Linked DNA regions of Homo sapiens. The protein of the gene in region 2 interacts with the protein of the main gene of each other region in a pairwise test. Each region holds a gene or a part of one and is shown on either strand. Other genes may lie near its edges.

Evidence for each region. The genes of interacting proteins can lie anywhere in the genome.
Region 1: the proteins of TBX18 (region 2) and PLEKHG4 interact in binary tests that used the Homo sapiens proteins (3 or more experiments, as listed by UniProt).

The regions. Positions count from the first base shown.
Region 1 is NC_000016.10:67,282,532-67,286,031, forward strand, and holds part of PLEKHG4 (puratrophin-1), read left to right. Parts: coding exon 1-110; intron 111-210; coding exon 211-327; intron 328-1,743; coding exon 1,744-1,926; intron 1,927-2,181; coding exon 2,182-2,684; intron 2,685-2,758; coding exon 2,759-3,005; intron 3,006-3,500. UniProt on the Homo sapiens protein: Possible role in intracellular signaling and cytoskeleton dynamics at the Golgi.
Region 2 is NC_000006.12:84,737,099-84,740,598, forward strand, and holds part of TBX18 (T-box transcription factor TBX18), read right to left. Parts: intron 1,494-3,500; coding exon 1,399-1,493; intron 312-1,398; coding exon 1-311. UniProt on the Homo sapiens protein: Acts as a transcriptional repressor involved in developmental processes of a variety of tissues and organs, including the heart and coronary vessels, the ureter and the vertebral column.

The sequences.
Region 1 (3,500 bases), on a different chromosome or scaffold from region 2:
ATGACCGGGTGGATGGATTGCTGCACCAACTGACCCTGCAGAGCAACCAGCGAATACAGGCCCTAGAGTTGGTCCAAACACTGGAGGCCCGGGAAAGCGGACTGCACCAGGTCGGAACTACTTGCCCAGAGTGGGCCCTGCCCCGATCTCAGACGTGAGCCCCCAGTCCATAGCAGCTCTCTTCACTTTTCCCTGCTTGTGCTCCTCCAGATTGAAGTGTGGCTGCAGCAGGTGGGCTGGCCAGCACTGGAGGAGGCTGGGGAGCCCTCGCTGGACATGCTGCTCCAGGCCCAAGGCTCTTTTCAGGAGCTGTACCAGGTTGCCCAGGTATATGTGGTCACTTGTTCATGCCACGGGTATTGGGATGCAATGCCAGGAACTAGGAATGCAGAACTGTGTGAAAGCAATTCAATCCTTTGCTTTCTTAGACCTTATAGTCCCATAGAAGATATCAGTTGTAATTAATCACAGTCATATATGTGCCTGTAAACCCAGGCAAGATCTCTGGAGAGAATCAGTGCAGGTGATTCTGCCTGAGGGTATAACCAAGACTTTACCCAGCAGGAGTGTCAGGCAAGCTTTTTTTGGGTGATTTTTGAGCTGAGAGTTGAAAGATAAGTTGAGGTCAACCAGGCAGAAGAGGGTTGAGGATGGGGGCACATTCCAGGCTTGGAAGATAGCATGTGCAAAGGTCCTGTGGCAGGATGGAGGACGGTGTGCCTGAGGAATCATAAGGCCAGTGAGGTTGAAATGCAGAGCAGAGAGGAAGAAAGAGTTGGGGGAGTTGCGGTGGGACAAGCCTGGTCAGTGGCCACATCACTGGGCCCTGTAGCAGTCAGTGTGGAGTTTAATCAGGAAGGCCATGTAATCAGATCCATATTCTAGGAAGATTGCCTTCGTTTCCGAGTAGACAGTGACTTGGAGGATGGGCATGGGGAGTGCAGTGAAGAGGCAATTGCAGTAGTCTAGGTGGGAAATAGTGCCTCCTCTGGCCAGGATAGTGGCAGGGGAGACGGGTTGGAGAAGTTGATGGGATTTGCTATGTACCCATGTGGGAGGGTAAGGGACAAGGATGTTGCAAGGATGAATGGGTGCTGTTCCCTGAGAGACTAGGAGATGAGGTCATCTTGGGGGAAGGGCATTCAAGAGTCCGGTCTTGGGCATGCTCGAGATGGCTGTGAGGGATGAGAGGAGGGCCCTTGGGTCTTGGGCCTGGAGCTCAGAGGAGAGGTCTAGCTGGAGAGGATCACTTGGTGGGTCCAGGTGTTTGGATGACATTTGAAGTTGGTCACACAAGAGTGCCTGGGAGAGCGAGTGCACTGTCCTCAGGATCCCCAGTGTTTAATGGCCTAGGTGAGGGAAGGGGAGCAGGACGAGCCACCAGAGAAGAGTGAGGAGAATCAGGAGCGTGGGGAGGAGCTGGGGGAGCCCAGTAGAGAGTGGGCTGAATGACGCTGAGAGTTGGAGTCAGTGAGGCCTGAGAAGCGCTGGGGACGGGGCAGAGTGGAGCTGGAGAGGGCTGGTGCGGAGGGCGAGACGAGACGGTGAGGACAGATGATTCCTCTAGGAACTTTGGCTGTGGAGAAGGGGAGTGGATGTGGGTGGGGAGTAGGAGATACGGGTAGATGTTCCACCACAGGACAGACTTGATGGGGACATGTCGATATGTCAGCAGGAAGTATCTGAGTCTGGGGGCTAGACCGCCAGGCCTGGGCTGGCTGAGCCTAGTCTCTGTCTCTGCAGGAGCAGGTCAGGCAAGGGGAGAAGTTTCTGCAGCCGCTGACTGGCTGGGAGGCGGCTGAACTGGACCCCCCTGGGGCACGCTTTCTGGCCCTGCGAGCCCAGCTGACTGAATTCTCTAGGGCTTTGGCCCAGCGGTGCCAGCGGCTGGCGGATGCTGAGAGGCTGTTTCAGCTCTTCAGGGAGGTGGGTGAGAGTCTCCCCAGCTCCAAGTGATCCATGAGGCCGGAGGGATGGCAGCCCCAGCTTCAGCAGAGCCTGAGCTTTTCTTGGTCATGCTGCCTGTTCTCTTCCCTGGTCTTCAGTTTGACCCTAAAACCCAGTCACTGGGGCTGTGTCCTGGACAGCATCCTGTGGGGATGGGGAGTGGGTAGAGGAGCAGAGTGCCCAGCAGGCTTGGCAGGATCTTCCTCTAATGCTTGTCCGGCCCTGGTGTTGCAGGCCTTGACGTGGGCTGAGGAGGGGCAGCGAGTGTTGGCAGAGCTGGAGCAGGAACGCCCGGGGGTTGTGTTGCAGCAGCTGCAGCTGCACTGGACCAGGCACCCTGACTTGCCTCCTGCCCACTTCCGAAAGATGTGGGCTCTGGCCACGGGGCTGGGCTCAGAGGCCATCCGCCAGGAGTGCCGCTGGGCCTGGGCGCGGTGCCAGGACACCTGGCTGGCCCTGGACCAAAAGCTTGAGGCTTCACTGAAGCTACCACCGGTGGGCAGCACAGCTAGCCTGTGTGTCAGCCAGGTCCCCGCTGCACCTGCCCACCCTCCCCTGAGGAAGGCCTACAGCTTCGATCGGAATCTGGGGCAGAGTCTCAGTGAACCTGCCTGCCACTGCCACCATGCGGCCACTATTGCTGCCTGCCGCAGACCAGAGGCTGGAGGAGGTGCCCTGCCCCAGGCATCCCCTACTGTGCCTCCACCAGGCAGCTCTGACCCCAGGAGCCTCAACAGGTATGGGCAGTAGGCAGGGCGGGGAGGGCAGTAAAGGAGAGATGTCTTGGGTCCTGACTCCCCATACCTGGTAGGCTACAGCTGGTGCTGGCAGAGATGGTGGCCACGGAGCGGGAGTATGTCCGGGCTCTAGAGTACACTATGGAGAACTATTTCCCCGAGCTGGATCGCCCCGATGTGCCCCAGGGCCTCCGCGGTCAGCGTGCCCACCTCTTTGGCAACCTGGAGAAGCTGCGGGACTTCCACTGCCACTTCTTCCTGCGTGAGCTGGAGGCTTGCACCCGGCACCCACCACGAGTGGCCTATGCCTTCCTGCGCCATGTAAGCCCGACAGGCCATGTGGTATCAGCTCGTTCTGCCACACTCCCGAAGTTGCTGCTGGGCACATGCTTGGTGCCAGTCCCTGTGCTATGAGTATAGCTATGAGCAAGACTGGCAGGCTCCTGCACCTGAGGGTGCTCTTAGTCCAGTAGAGGAGACATAGAAGCAAGAACGATACTTGTAGATTATAGTTGGGGCTAGGAGGAAAATAAGCAGGATAGATGCTTGTGAATTACTGGCGGGGCAGGGGCTCCACTTTAGAGGGCCTGAGTGCGGTGCCAGGACACCTGGTACAAGAGGAAGTCTTTGAGAGGCTGATGTTTAAGCTGAGGAATAGGGGAGGGGCTGGAGTGAGTGTCCCACCCAGAGGAAAGAGCAAGTACAAGGTCGTGTGGAGGAAAGGGGGCCTGCCAAGGAGGTGGCTGAGTGTAGTGAGCAGGACAGTCCCAGGTGAGGTGAGCTCTTAGAGCCGTGGGAGGAGCAGAGCTGAAGGCA
Region 2 (3,500 bases):
CATGGACATGTTCACGGAGGTGCTGCTGCTCACGCCCACATAGGAGGGAGTCCTGGGCGGGGCAAAGGTCTCACCAGCCTGGTTGGTGAGCCTGTTGTAGGTCTCTGCCAAAGATGTGCTGTATCGGTTGAGGGTGAGGCCTGAGCGGGCACAGGCAGAATAGTCAGCAGGGGCCAGACTACACAGCTGGCTGGTGTTGGGCCCCAGATGGAAGGCAGGAGAGGAGCAAGAGGAGCCAGACAAAAGGTGAGGGTGAGTGGCAGGAACGCCATTCCCAGTACCTTGGAGCAAGGTGGAGGAACTTGCATTGCCTACAAAAGAAGTTGAAATGTAAAGAATGACTCCACAGTCATCCTTTCCTTTCAATTTTGTAAATATGAGCTAGACACAGCTTGTTACAAGGCAAGGGTTGGAGGAATGCTACAGAGATGAAAAGGAGATGGTCTCAGCTTTCAAGGAATTATCTGGTTGAAAAATCTCATTTCCAATTAGAAAACAAGTTGTTGAATCACATGCTAATACAAGAGCAGAGGTCCAACAAATCAACAGTCCTGTGAAACTTAGAGAGGGTAGTTAACCCTGTGTCCAACCAATGGCAGTGATGGTGCCCCCTCTGGATCTGCTGGCAGACTGATGTTTGCAAACTTGACAGAACTTAAGGGGAGAGGAGAATTCCAAAGGGCTGGACAGGTTGTAAAACCTTCATTGCTGTATTGATGGTGTTTTATATAGTGTCTCAAAATAATCCAAAAGCCCAATCCAACCAATAATAATTATCTGAAACCCAGCATAGCAAATTCTCACTGGAATCTGGGCAGGATGATGGTAAAAAGCCTGAATGTAGAAGTGAGCTGAGAGTGTTACCTATGGAGCAGACCAGAGAGGAAGCAACATCGCTTTCCATGCAGTTCCCTCTGAGAAGAAATCAGCCCTGGGCTGCTGAGAAATATTCAGAGATGAGCCCAGGAGGGTCTGCCTGAATGTGCCTGACCTTCCTCATCGTTAACCCAACAGGAGAACCCTACCCAGAGGCAATTCTGCTGAAGAAAGAAAACAAACAAGATCTGAAGAAAGGGTGGACTGGGGGCACCATCAACAATTTCTTGTGAACAGGACCTGGCATCAGAGCACCTCTAATTTTAATACGAGATTTAAGGATGAGGTAAAGGTCATGAAATATACAAACAGCCTAAGACATCTAAGATTTAATCTGTGACCATGAGAGCCGTTTTTTCCTGATCCATCCCCATACCATGCAGAAGACAGATGGAATCTGTAGGACAATGCTGGTGATGAGGTCATTATTGTAAGTATAAATAATGACTTGTACACTTTTAGTGCCTGAGTTTCTAGGCAGGAACGGGCTGTATATATGACCCAGGAGACTTTGTGAGTTACCTTGCTTGGGAATTCCAGGGATATCTTCAAAGGTCAGAGTCCGTAGTGATGGTCGCCAGAATGCATATGATTCCACCAAGGCTTCCAAACCCATTCTAAATGGAAAGGGTCAGGATAGGGGTGGACAAAAGAAGTCTAGTTAGGAGCATTTGGATCTTTCACCAGCAGCAAGCATCTCAAAACAACACTGATATTGACAGTACCCCCACACTGTCCAGTTAGGATCTTGCCACTGGCAAGAAGAAATGCTTCAGCAATGGGCTAACATCCTGTTACCAGCAGCAGGAGAGAACTGAAATCACCCACCCAAGATGCCTGTTAATGTTCTCAGGAAAACTCAGCTGACCTGAAGGGTGAAAAGCTGTTCCCTTGGGCTAAGGAGCTGAGATGAAGAGAGTCCCTCCTGGCTGCTGTGAGTCCAAGGCTCTGCTGTGATCTGGAACACACCCACTCTCCTTGTCCTGTTACTTCTCCCTCTAAGTGAGGAAGGCATTGCCACAAAAGCACATTCCTAGAAAACCAGCTCTTTTCTAAGGGTCATTACTGCCCATCATTTGGTGCCTCAGCAGCCAGCTCAGGGAAGCACTCCTCCAAAGAAGACTGACTTCTCTCTCAGGAGCACAATCTCTACTACACCCAGTGTAGCCAGGCTGGGCTCCCACCAGCAACAGGAGGGCCATGAAGAAACAGCACTGGCCTCTCCCTGCAGTGTGTGGGAGGAGAGCAGGAAGGTGACCTCACAGGGCTATCTAGTATATAGAGTTACTATTAAATCACAAATTATTTTAAAACCCTGAAATACACTTAATGAATGGATACTTAAAGAGACAGGGTAAGTTTCATATGGACTACTTACATGACATACGTATATTTTAAAACAAGGGCAACTACTCTAAATACATATATCAACCATCTCCTACCATGAATGATTCAGAGACTTCCCCTCTGTATATCAAGTGACTAAGTCCTCTGGGTTCTGGGAATGAGGCCATTCACTCAACTAGATCATTCTCAAGACAGCCACACCTGAGACCTCATCACTCTTCCTTCAACCACCTCAGCCCTAAGTAATTTGTTGATCTAGGTAACATTACACTTTTAATGAAACCTGTAGCTCCACTGTAGAAAATACTTGCTTCCTGGGATATCCAATAATAGACATCTCCTTTAATAGTTTGACTCAAGGTGCTACCACCTCTGGAGTCCCTGCGCCCCAAGTCATAACCTGCAAACTAAGACTAGAGGAATCCACCCCAGAGAGTCATACCACATACACAATATGGTGAAAGCTCTCTAAACACCAGAGGTAAGTGATTTGTGCCAATAAAACTATCTTACACTACTTGTCCATCTGTTCCAAGGCTTCACACACAGAATTTACTTCCTTAGAGTGTTCAGGGTATAGTCTCTGTTAATTGATTTCTGTACTCATTCTGGAGGAATACGCCTACCCCATCTTAGTGACAGAATGATGTAGCTATGCATGTGTGGAGGGGTGGTGTGTATACATGCACAGGCTTGCATGCACAAACACACCTCATGAGGCTGCACATAAGCCTGACTCATCTCTTAAGTCACAGGCTCTGGGGGTGCAGCTCTGAGGGCACTTCAAAGAGATGTCTGCAGCCCCAGAGGGGATAGTGCAGGATTGCCAAAGAAAAGAGCAGAGCACAGAGGGGACCTGCACCTGCTCCACCTGGCCTACCCTGAGAGAGAACAGAATCTGGCTTCAGATGTAATCAATGTGCCACAGAGAGAGAATTATTTAGTGGTAAGGATACTAGATTGGGGTCAGAAAGACTGCACTGGCACTGCAACTCACTAAAACTCATTGTCTGACCTTAAGCAAATTTGCTAATCTCCCTGGACTTCAGTTTCTCACAAAGAAAGGATGAGATTACAAAAGGTCTGAAACCCTTATTAATCCTAACATTGTTTCATTCTAAGAGATTTTTTTTCCAAACCAGTCATCATATCTGTGGCCAAACTACAAGCCAAATCCAAGTTCATGCCACTTGATAGTATTTTCTGTACTAGTGTATTGATTTCTGGGCAGTTTGGCAGACCTGGTCAGTTCCAAACCACATGTTGCCTGTGGGTAT